Homo sapiens: one gene and its partners. The protein of the gene in region 2 purifies or fractionates together with the protein of the main gene of each other region. This does not show direct contact. Each region holds a gene or a part of one and is shown on either strand. Other genes may lie near its edges. The genes, in order: SLC12A6, SLC25A35 and CPT2.

Region 1 (4,437 bases), on a different chromosome or scaffold from region 2:
AAGGGTAACGTAAGAACCGCAGACTGGACAAGGAACCTGTTCTGCTGGTCTAACACATTACTAAGTCCACTTTTCCAAAGAATAAAAATACAATTCTGTAACATGTAAGTCACAAGTCTAACAAACTAAACTATAAATTACCTAATGATAATTACAATATTAAGAAATTAACACTGGTATAGTCTTTACCTGGAATTTTTACAACCTAAATACAGCATGATGGATAAAAACTAAAACCACAATTTGGAATTAATTTGGAGGAAGAGGAAATGATAAATTTGTATTCCATACTGTAATTTTAATCCAGTGTATGACACACTGTAAAATTTGTCAAAAAGTTGAAAACAGTAAAGTCTGAGAACCAACCTATGTCTCCATAAAAGAAAAAATGATTAGTCAAGGATGAGTGAATTCTAGGACTGTAAACTTTACCAAATCTACCTTGTCTCCAGATACTAAAAACACAAACAGAATTAGGGAACTAAAATCATTCTGGTTTCCTGAACCCTTTAGGTTAAAAGGAACAATATTTCCTGACACCGGAAAATGGTGAGTAAGCCTTGCTTTCACAAGTCAGTGGGTGAGGCTATGGTTTTCAAACTTGGGTGGAATATTATTTTAAGAGTCTTTAAGGGAAATTTTTATCATTAAAAGATTACATTAGTTACAACACAGCATAAAACTAAATATATAAAGCAGTACAGGTCTCAAACTTTTAAATTTCAGAGTCCAAAAAATGTTATGATCTCCCCATTTTCTCTCTTCTCTCTCTTCCATCACCTCTTCCCAGTACCTCAAATAAAACCAAGCCAGCTGACACACACAAACTGGTTTAGGAAGCTAAAGGTCTGTAGCAGTCAACATGAGCCAGGAGTGGCTTGTGTGCTACCTGCTAACTCTAATCATCAGACTTTCCATCTAAAGCTCAGAGAGAATAAATTACATGGGAATCAGGCCCTAAAAGCCTTTTCAGAAGTCTTCCATTTGACAGAATAGCACATTAGGTCTACCCACCATCACCCTGAGTGGGCTTAGCTACTTGTGTCAAGGTCTCCATAAAAATACAGATTTCAAAAAAGAATTTTGCAATACACATTCGAAGTCTTGGAGGAAAGCTGCTAAGATACGACCAGTAACTACTCCATGAAACCAGTCTTAAAGCAGACTGAAATAGCCAATGATGGCTACAGAACACATATCCAACTCACTAAATTTTAAAATTTAGGATTCTGTGTGCTGAAAACGATTACATTCTTTGATATTCACTTTTAACCAAAATACCCATTTCATTTCTAAGAAGACAAAAATGAGGAAGTTAAAATATACATTTGCCTTCCTTCTTGTCATACACCTTCCCACATACCAAATTACTACTGCAAAGAGCCACTATGCTATTATTCCAAAGAGTTCCTAAGCATCTCACAAAGAGATGCCTTGGTTCCTGATGACTATTATAATCATAATTATATGATTATGATCTTCCAGATCCATAGATGGTCATCTTGGATAAAGAACCCAGTAATGAAAGTATGCTGCGGTCTGTGTTTCTACTTACCCTCGATGACATCCTGGGGGTGAGAAGTCCGGTCACTGGGTGGATCCAGTGCAACAGTTGCCAGCGAAGTGGTGGCCCCAGACATCTCACTCATAGGCTCACTCCGGCTTGTTTCAGGCACGCTTTCCCGGGAGCTAAATCTTACTCGGGAACTAGATCGAGAGCTGAGGTCCGGACTGGTGTCTGACAAACCTGGAATGTCATCGATCTTTGTCGGTGTCACCATGAACCGAACTGAAGCCATCTTGGTGGTGGTTTCTGGAGGATGCATTTTGTTCTTTTTAAGAACAAAAAAAGTGGGGGGAACCTCGCAAAATCTTCCTCTTACGCTAGCTACTTTTGACTGCAATACAAAAGATAACTTGAAAAATAACACATTTCAATAACCTTGATTCACACCACACAAAAAGCCCCAACTAAGAATACTTCTACTCAGAATTCAAGCCGACTGTCCTAGAAAGTGCATCACCAATAGGTGAATATATTTTTTAAGAGAGAAAAAAACAAAAAACAAAAAGACAAAACAATGCCAATCTTGTGTGACTTCTTTCCTTCAGAATGAAGAGCTACCTAGCTAACCCCTCTGGTCCGGGGCTGAAGGCTCAGTGCCATGGTCTCAGGGCAGCAGATGAAGCCTCCCTCCCCTCAGCCCCCAGTTTCCTGTCGAGGTAGTCCTTTATCTGGTGAGTGTCCCACGGTTCTAGTTGGGCGAAGTGCGTGCAGGCAAACCTTTATCAGGCGACTATAGCGTGGATCAGATTGCTAAAAGGTGTACACCCGGCCACCTGTTGTGTATCAGGTGAATACCCCACAGGTCTGGCTGGGGGGAGGTGTATGCAAAGCCACCCGGTGTTTTTGATGTCGACAATCCACTTGGGTCTGGTGGGAAAGGTGCACATGCATAACGGGAAAAATAACCCACACTACTGAGAGAAGGGTGAGCAGAGGAGGATGCAGGGGCAGAGCGGATTCCTGTCTCCGAGAGGTCGGTGGGGGTGGCGCGCCCGCTCTTCTCCTAGCAGAAAGGTCCTCGGGGTCTGGGAGGAGGTTAGCGGATCAAGACACCTCGGACTGCAGCTCAGAGTCGTGGCAAGTCGTAGCTAGTCCACTGAGCCACGGTCCGCTCGCTAGGTTTCTCCTGCGTGTGACAGGACGAGCCACCCCCTTTGCCGGAGGCGCGTTCTCCCCTACCCCCGCCCCGGCGCAGGTCACCCCCTCGTCGTTCTTCCTCAGGGTCCCAGTAGAGGAGGAGACGGCCACGCAGGCTGGCCTGACTGGGCAGCAGGGTGAGGGAGAAGGAGGTCGCAGGTGCAGTATCCCGGCGCCAGCTGATGCGGGTGCGCGCGCAGCTGTTGTTTACTAGCCGGTAACTGTTTCAGAGCCGCGGCGCGCGCAGGGTTCGCGCTGCCGGGGCTGGCGCCCCCTCCCCGGCCCGACGCCAGAGCAGCAGTTACGTGACCTGGCCTCCCCCAGCCCCGGGCCCGACGGGGTGCGCCCGCGCCGCCGCAGCCCTTCCCTTCCCTCCCCGCTTGTTCCTCATTCGAGGTGAACCTTGCGAAGAGAAGCCCGGGGGTGCAGTGAGAGGGCGGAACCGTCCCGCGGGCGCCCGAAAGCCCCGCCCAGCCGCCGCAGCCCGCGGTGACCGAGTGCAGCGCGCCTGCGCTCGCCGCGGGACACGGCAGGCGGGGCGGGGCCGAATACGAGTGGCCAGGGGCACGACGGGAGCTGTAGTCCAGGGCACGGCCCGACCCGCGTGAAGAGGGGAATAATCCTTTTCCTCGGTCCGGCTGTGCTGCACACTCACTCTGGAAGCATCCTAGAGGGCGGGCGCTGCTCCTCACCCTCAGAACCCGGGGAGCCATTTCTCTTTCATGAGTGTCTCTGAAAACATCATTCATGATTTCTTTAACCAGAAACACCGCTCCTATACCTGGGAATAACCCTCATTGTAATTTTTATGTAGAGGTCTACATACAAATAAACCACTTTTATGTAAAAAAAAAAAATTAAAACTATAAAGTAGGCCTGGCGCGGTGGTTCACGACTGTAATCCTAGCACTTTGGGAGGCTGAGGCGGGCGTGATCGATCACCTGAGCTCAGGAGTTCCAGACCAGCCTGGCCAGCATAGCGAAACCCCGTCTCTACCAAAAATTCAAAAATTAGCCGGGCGTGGTGGCGTGTGCCTGTAATCCCAGCTATTCCTTAGACTGAGGCAGGAGAATCGCTTGAGCTTGGGAGGCGGAGGTTGCAGTGAGCCGAGAACGCACCATTGCATTCCAGCCTGGGGGGACAAGAGCAAAACTCCGTCTCAAAGAAATAAATAAATAAAAATAAAACTATAAAGTACCTTAAACACATTTGTCCTACTTTAATTTTTTGTTGTTGTTCTTGTCCTTTTAATAAATGCTATGTCCACTTTCTAGTCAGACTGAAAGTTCCACTAAATAATACGTTTTTTTATACCTGGAGAAGACGTTGATGTATTTTCTCAAATCCATTCCATGTTTTCACCACTACATTTGTCGCTAGAATATTTTTTCTTAGTGTTTATTTAATGTATAAATGGTGGTGTTCGATAAATTCTGACTCACCAATGTTTTGTTTGAAAAGCTATTTCCTATAGCTGTGATCAAGACCTCTAAATTTAACAATCACCTGGGCCCAGAAACTGGCCCCCGGTTTTGCCTGGGGTCTTGGCTCCTCACAAGTGGTTATGTTTAAGCAGCACTCCTAGCAATGGGAACTGTATTCCCGGAAGTTCTCTTTTATCAAATGACACACAAAGTCCAAATCCTTTCAAGGATTAAAGGATCAAAAAGGTTAAAAAGATCCTGGTAACAAAATGAGAAATCCTAATGTAAAGTGTAAACCTCCTAAAGTT
Region 2 (2,989 bases):
TGATCTCTTGCTTACCTTCAATCAGCCCCCGTAAGGAGGAAGGAACGGGCGGGTATCTCATGACTGGGTTCCCAGGAGAATCGGGCTGGGAGGGACAGAACAGGGAGACTCACTGGTGGGATCCTCCAAGGAAGCAGGAGTGGGCCAGAGGTTTGGGGTAACTGATACCCAGGTCCTCTGGGGAACAGGAATTGGCAATTTCCAAACCTCAGGCCTGGATGATGTTCTGTCTCCATCTGTTCCCCCACCCCAAGCCCTGACAACAGGTCATCTCTTGGCCCCGAAAATCTGTCACCTGCACCCTGGAGCCTGGGTGACTTTGAACAGCTGGTGACCAGTCTGACCCTTCACGATCCTAACATCTTTGGTCCCCAGTAAAGGCGCTGAAGCACTGCATGATGTTGCTGAGAACTTGGGGACTCGGTTCTGTGAGGGGGAAAAGAGGTTGAAAAGAGGGTTTCCTCTTATTTCTTCCCTGTGCGTAAACATAAGACAATCCCTCTTCAGAATAAACTTGCTTTATAATCAATATAATCTCTGTGCCTTTGAATCTAACAGGACACCTGGGTCCCAGACGCCTGGGAATTGGGTCTCTCGATTCCCTTTGGTTTTGGAGGGAGGAGTTTAAAACTGTGCATGGGAGCAGGAGGGACTCAAGGGTGGCAGTGGTGAGTGGGAGGAAATACACTTTGGGATGACTCGTTCAGCCCTGAGAGAGGGGTGTGAGTTACCCAGGGAATGGGTAGGGAAGGTTTAAAGCAACACCCAAGGAAAGAAGGGAAACTCATCTCTTGTAGTGATTCAACCCTGAGAACAGATGGGGAGTGGGGTTGGCTGTCCCCCATGGATGGATGAAAGGTCACCTAATCAGTAGTCACCAGGACATAGTGGTGGAGGCACAAGTGGCCAAGGAGTGCTCATTTGGTGGAGACTGGGAAAGCGGCTGTTATTTAGTGTCTGTGTAGTAGAGGGAGCGCAGCTGGTCCCAGAAGAAGAGGGAGAGGATGGTGTGGGGGCCGAGGCGGAAGTAGGAGGCACCTATACCCTTGTACATGCCAAAAATGCCCTCGGTCCGAGCTGTCTGCAGCAGAGCGTCCAGTATCCCCCGGTACATGAGGCCCTGAGAGTGTGTCAGAGAGGGAGGGAGAGCACAGAGAAGGAGTTTGTCAGAGCCCACCAGGGGCAGCACCTCTACAGGCTGCATTTCAGGCTATCCCACCTGCACCCGCAATCTGCCTTCCCCATCCCCTGCTTCCCGCCTGCATCCCAGAGCACTTCCTTACCTTGCCCTGTGCATCTGTGGGCTGGTTGTAGAGCCTTGTGCAGGCCACATCAAAGGGTGCCATGGCCAAGACAACTGCAATGCCACTCATCATGGCAGCCACCAGCGCCAACTTCCAGCTCTGGGGAGGAAAGATCTAAGGGGGTAGAGAGGAAGAGCGTTGTCAACCAGCCAACTATTACACCCCAAGGACAGGACAGTCCCTGCCCTGGGGACACAGATGCTGGTAACTGGGGGAGCTTCCACTGCACCAGTTATAACAGTGCAAAAACAGTGAGAAGGAGGAAGGCCAGGGTACCCTGAAGGCTCAGGTACCCCTTCTGGGAGGAAGTGACAAGAGAACTGTGGGAAGGGTCTAAAGAGTTGACCTCCAAGCCCTCCTGCCACTCCCTCACCTGTGAATGTTGGGCACCATCCCCTCCAGGGCCTAGTGCAGCTTGCCCTCCCCTTCCCCCCTTCCCGAAACAGACCCACCCATTTCCCAGGCAGTACCTCCCACTGGCTCAGGAGGTCCTTGGTGGATGAGAAGGTGCACAGCTGGGTGGAGGAACCGACGATAACTCGGGGCAGGCCGCCCAGAGCCCCACGCCATAACCCCACCAGACCATGTTTCTGGCCAATCTCGGTTAGCGCCTGAAACATGCCCTAGTGTGGGGAAGACCGGGGGTGGGGTTCAGACAGCCCAGCATCAGGGGCTGCCATCCTAACACTGCCAAGGATGGGTCCTTAATAGGAATCTCTTGTCCAGACAACCAGTTCAATGTGGGCTTAGAGCCAGAATGTGGGCCCTTGGTTGTCTAGCCACCCCATTGTTCCTTCCCTGGGCACCCAAGAACTGGGGCGGGATGTATGCAAGTGAGGCCATTCACTGGTCAGGAGAAACAGGGGCAGAAAATTAGAGGAACTGGAGTACATATTGGAAAGAGGCATCAGGCACGGTGGCTCACGCCTGTAATCCTAGCACTTTGGGAGGCCCAGGCGGGTGGATCACCTGAGGTCAGGAGTTTGAGACCAGCTTGGCCAACATGGTGAAACCCCATCTCTATTAAAAATACAAAAATTGCCGGGTGCAGTGGCTCATGCCTGTAATCCCAGCACTTTGGGAGGCCGAGGCGGGCGGATCACAAGTTCAGGAGTTCGAGACCAGCCTGACCAACATGGTGAAACCCCATCTCTACTAAAATTACAAAAATTAGCTGGACGTGGTGGCGCATGGCTGTAATCCCAGCTACTCAAGAGGTTGCAGCAGGAGAATCACTTGAACCCGGGAGGTGGAGGTTGCAGTGAGCCAAGACTGCGCCACTGCACTCCAGCCTGGGCAACAGAGCAAGACTCTGTCTCAACAAAACAAAACAAAACAAAAAAAATTTAGCTGGGTGTGGTGGTGCACGCCTGTAGTCCCAAGCTACTCGGGAGGCTGAGGCAGGAGAATCACTTGAACCCGGGAAGCGGAGGTTGCAGTGAGCCGAGATCGTGCCAATGCACTTCAGCCTGGGCAACAGAGCGAGACTCCATCTAAAAAAAGAGTAAAGAGGGTCTGGGTAGACTCCAGGGGCAAAATGGGACAGAACCGATGGGTTGAGCAGAGCAGTGGCTGGGATTGGATCTGTTGGGTGCAGGCAGAAAGCTAGGGGAAAAGAGAAAGGATGGTCAGGGACTTTGGCAGACTTGGGAACCCTCACCTGATGCTTATACTGGTGCCCTACA
Region 3 (3,649 bases), on a different chromosome or scaffold from region 2:
CACCCACTGGCTACACAGGCCCCAGTTTTTTTTTCTTTTTTGTTTTTTTGAGACAGTCTCGCTCTGTCGCCCAGGCCGGAGTGCAGTGGTGTGATCTCAGCTCACTGCAACCTCCACCTCCTGGGTTCAAGCAATTCTGCTTCAACCTCCCAAGTAGCTGGGATTATAGGCACATGCCACCACACCCAGCTAATTTTTGTATTTTTAGTAGAGACAAGGTTTCACCATGTTGGCCAGGTTGGTCTCAAACTCCTGACCTCAAGTGATCCACCCGCCTCAGCCTCTCAAAATGCTGGGATTACAGGCATGAGCCACCATGCCCGGCCTCCCAGTTTTCATGATGAGGAAGTGATGGTAGCTTTTCATCTGCCCAGAAGTTAACTTTTGATGGATTTGCCTTCTAAGGCATCAAACATGTCTTCTAAGGCCTTCTCCACACATTGGAGAAACTCCCGGGCATTGCGGCCTGGGTAGGAAGAGACATTGCAGCCTATCCAGTTGTCATGAACAGCATACCCAACACCAAAGCCATCAGAGACCACAGGGGCAAAGCCCCCAAGGTTCACTGCTGGGCTGCTCAGTGTGCTCGTGGACAGGACATTGTGGTTTATCTGCCCGTATGCAGGGTCCAGGTAGAGCTCAGGCAAGATGATCCCTTTGGCTGCTGCCAGATGCCGCAGAGCAAACAAGTGTCGGTCAAAGCCCTGGCCTGTGAGAAACAAAATGGAAAACCAGAGTCTCAGGATGGAAAAGGACCTCAGGAAAACCTCCCAACTCACCACATGGTAGGAATACCCCTCACAGCATCCTTGAGAGTGGGGGAAGGCTCTACCTCTATGCACACCACCAACTGACTAACCTTCAGAGCAGCTCAAGCTAGATTATTTTAAATTATTTAGGAAATATATTATGTCATGTTACATTTAAAAATAGCTGTCAACAGCTGAGCTAAAAATGAGCCTAAAAGGAAAGCATAATTTTAAAGATGTGAAATCAGTTTAGTCAAAGAGTCAAGACAGTACAGGAAGACAGCTATGGACTCAAAAACTACAATAAAACTAAAAGTCTGATTCAAGTGTAAAAGAGAAGATTGAGTCAGTGGAACAAAATGGAAAGTCTGTTTGACCAGGGTTCGAATCTCAGTCTTACTACTAACTTGCTGTGTAACGGGGCCAGTGGCTTGGTTTTCTCCCTATAAAATGGAGGAAGAGAAGATTAGAATGTCTTGGAGGTCCCTTTCACTTCCAGCACTTCATAGCAACATGAAAGGACAACTATGACCCTCCAGGTCCTTTCCAGGTCTTGAATTTTATCAAAAAAAGGTAATGACGGATGACAATTGAGAAGAGCTTCTGAGATAACCTGTTTACAGAGAGCAGACACATTACAACTGAGGTGAAGCTAGTGGGGCCGTAAGTTTAGAAATCCTAAATTTTCAAAAGTGAGTCTGATAACCAATCAGTAATAGAAAAAGGTTGGGTGCAGTGGTGCATGCCTATAATCCTAGTGCTTTGGGAGGCCAAGGCAGGAGGATTGCTTGAGCCCAGGAGTTTGAGACCACCTTGGGCAATACAGTGGGACCTCATCTCTACAAAAAATTTTAAAAATTAGGCCCGGCATGGTGGCTTACGCCTATAATCCCAGCACTTTGGGAGGGTGAGGCGGGTAGATCATGAGGTCAGGAGTTTGAGACCAACCTGGCCAACATAGTGAAACCCCGTCTCTATTGAAAATATAAAAATTAGCTGGGCATGGTGGCATAAGCCTGTAGTCCCAACTACTCAGGAGGCTGAGGCAGGAGAATCGCTTGAACCCAGGAGGCAGAGGTTGCAGTGAGCTGAGATTGTGCCACTGCACTCCAGCCTGGGCAACAGAGCAAGAGTCCATCTCAAAAAAAAAAAAAAATTAAAATATCAGCTGGGCATGGTGGTGCATGCCTATAGTCCCAGCTATTTGGGAGGCTGAGGCAGGAGGATTGTTTGAGCCAAGGAAGTTGAGGTTGCAGTGAGCCATGATTGCACCACTGTACTCCAGCCTGGGTGACAGAATGAGACCGTGTCTCCAAAAAAAAAAAGGCCAGGTGCGGTGGCTCACGCCTGTATTCCTAGAACTTTGGGAGGCTGAGAGGGATGGATCACCTGAGGTCAGGAGTTCAAGACCAGCCTGGCCAAAATGGCAAAACCCCTTCTTTACTAAAAATGCAAAAACTAGCCAGGTGTAGTGGCGGGTGCCTATTATCCCAGCTACTTGGGAGGCAGAGGCAGGAGAATCACTTGAACCTGGGGGTGGAGGTTGCAGTGAGCCGAGATCACGCCATTGCACTCCAGCCTGGACGGAGGGAAACTCTTGTCTCCAAAAAAAAAAAAAAAAAAGAAAGAAAAAAGAATTAATGCGTCACAGCTGAAAGTGACCTTAAATGAGGACAAAGACACATGCATTTCCCCACCCCTGCTTAGGAGGCAAGAACATTCTGATCCCTAGTGGCTAGTGTGGCTGTTCAGACTGCTAGGGTAGAAAAGAAAAATTTGGGGAGTTGGCGATGGATTAAACCTAGTGAACGGGTAGAAATCAGATTTGGAGTAGAATGATTTAGGCTTGCTTACCCAAGCACTGAGGACAAGACCCAAGGGCATGCTCCCCACCCCTGCCTCACCCATTGCTGCTTCTTTGGTCAGCTGGCCATGGTACTTGGAGCACTCAACCATCATCTGCTGAAGCTCACCAGCACTGTGCCTGGAGGGCTCCCTGACAAAGGCCTCAGAGCACCTCTTTGTATAGACGGAGGCCGGGCGGATGGTCTCAGTGCGGCCGTGCTTGAATGCGGCAGTGCTACAGGACTCGTAGGTGGCCACTGTCTGCCCGTACTGCCGCAGGAAGGCCATCTGGAATGCCAGCTGGGCAACTGCGTCAGGGCTCAGCTTTTGCTTCTTCAGGAATTCTTTGCCTCCTCTCTGAAACTGGACGCAGTCAATAGTGAGGGTTTTCATGGTGGCATCAAACTTTTCCTTAGCAGCTGTGATGCCAGTCTTTAAGGCATCAGTCAGCTCGAAGTTGAGTTTCTGCACCGTGACAGTAGAGTCAGTGGTAGCTGGCTGGCTCTGTGGAGTGACGGCAGGGGTCTGAGTGCTGTCTTTAAATACTTCATTAAAAAATCTGAGCACTGCCACACCATCACCCCAAGAGTGCTCAAAGTGGACGGCAGTAGAGCCATCCTTGGCGATAATGAGGTTAAAGGATTTATCAAACCAGCGGTTTGTGCCATCCCCATGCAGCATATTGTGGGACAAGTGGACAAGGTCCTTAATGGGGAAGTCATCTAGGCAGAGACAGAACACTGCCGAGTCCACTTTCCTCAGGCTCTCCTCATTGCCACTACTCATCAGCTTCTGCCTGAGCTCTGCCCAGATGTCTCGGTTCTCACTGGTCAGGTATGCCAGGGGAAACTCGGGGGCGGGGCTGCTGTCTGAGAGAATGTACTTCAGATGTGCCTGGATTTCCGAGGGGCTCACAATGTTCCCATCTTGATCCAGGACATCAAAGATATAAAAATTTCCTTTCCTTAGGACCAGGAGGTGTCTGGCCTTGTCATCAGTGAAGAGTTCATCCCGACTGGGTTTGGGTAAACGAGTTGAGTTGAAAAGCCGAAAAT

Evidence for each region.
Region 1: the proteins of SLC25A35 (region 2) and SLC12A6 purify together in Homo sapiens (affinity purification with mass spectrometry; one large-scale study listed by BioGRID and IntAct). This does not show direct contact.
Region 3: the proteins of SLC25A35 (region 2) and CPT2 purify together in Homo sapiens (affinity purification with mass spectrometry; one large-scale study listed by BioGRID and IntAct). This does not show direct contact.

What each region holds. Positions count from the first base shown.
Region 1 is NC_000015.10:34,334,855-34,339,291, forward strand, and holds the start of SLC12A6 (solute carrier family 12 member 6), read right to left. Parts: upstream 2,928-4,437; 5' UTR 2,478-2,927; intron 2,163-2,477; exon of another isoform or gene 1,899-2,162; 5' UTR 1,827-1,898; coding exon 1,556-1,826; intron 1-1,555.
Region 2 is NC_000017.11:8,289,559-8,292,547, forward strand, and holds the end of SLC25A35 (solute carrier family 25 member 35), read right to left. Parts: coding exon 2,965-2,989; intron 2,798-2,964; coding exon of another isoform or gene 2,714-2,797; exon of another isoform or gene 2,620-2,713; intron 1,928-2,619; coding exon 1,775-1,927; intron 1,419-1,774; coding exon 1,284-1,418; intron 1,121-1,283; coding exon 947-1,120; 3' UTR 503-946; downstream 1-502. Other genes in the region: RANGRF (ran guanine nucleotide release factor), read left to right, coding at 1-30, 255-378. UniProt on the Homo sapiens protein: Putative antiporter that exchanges dicarboxylates and sulfur oxoanions across the inner membrane of mitochondria.
Region 3 is NC_000001.11:53,210,324-53,213,972, reverse strand, and holds part of CPT2 (carnitine O-palmitoyltransferase 2, mitochondrial isoform 1 precursor), read right to left. Parts: coding exon 2,654-3,649; intron 710-2,653; coding exon 378-709; 3' UTR 1-377. UniProt on the Homo sapiens protein: Involved in the intramitochondrial synthesis of acylcarnitines from accumulated acyl-CoA metabolites.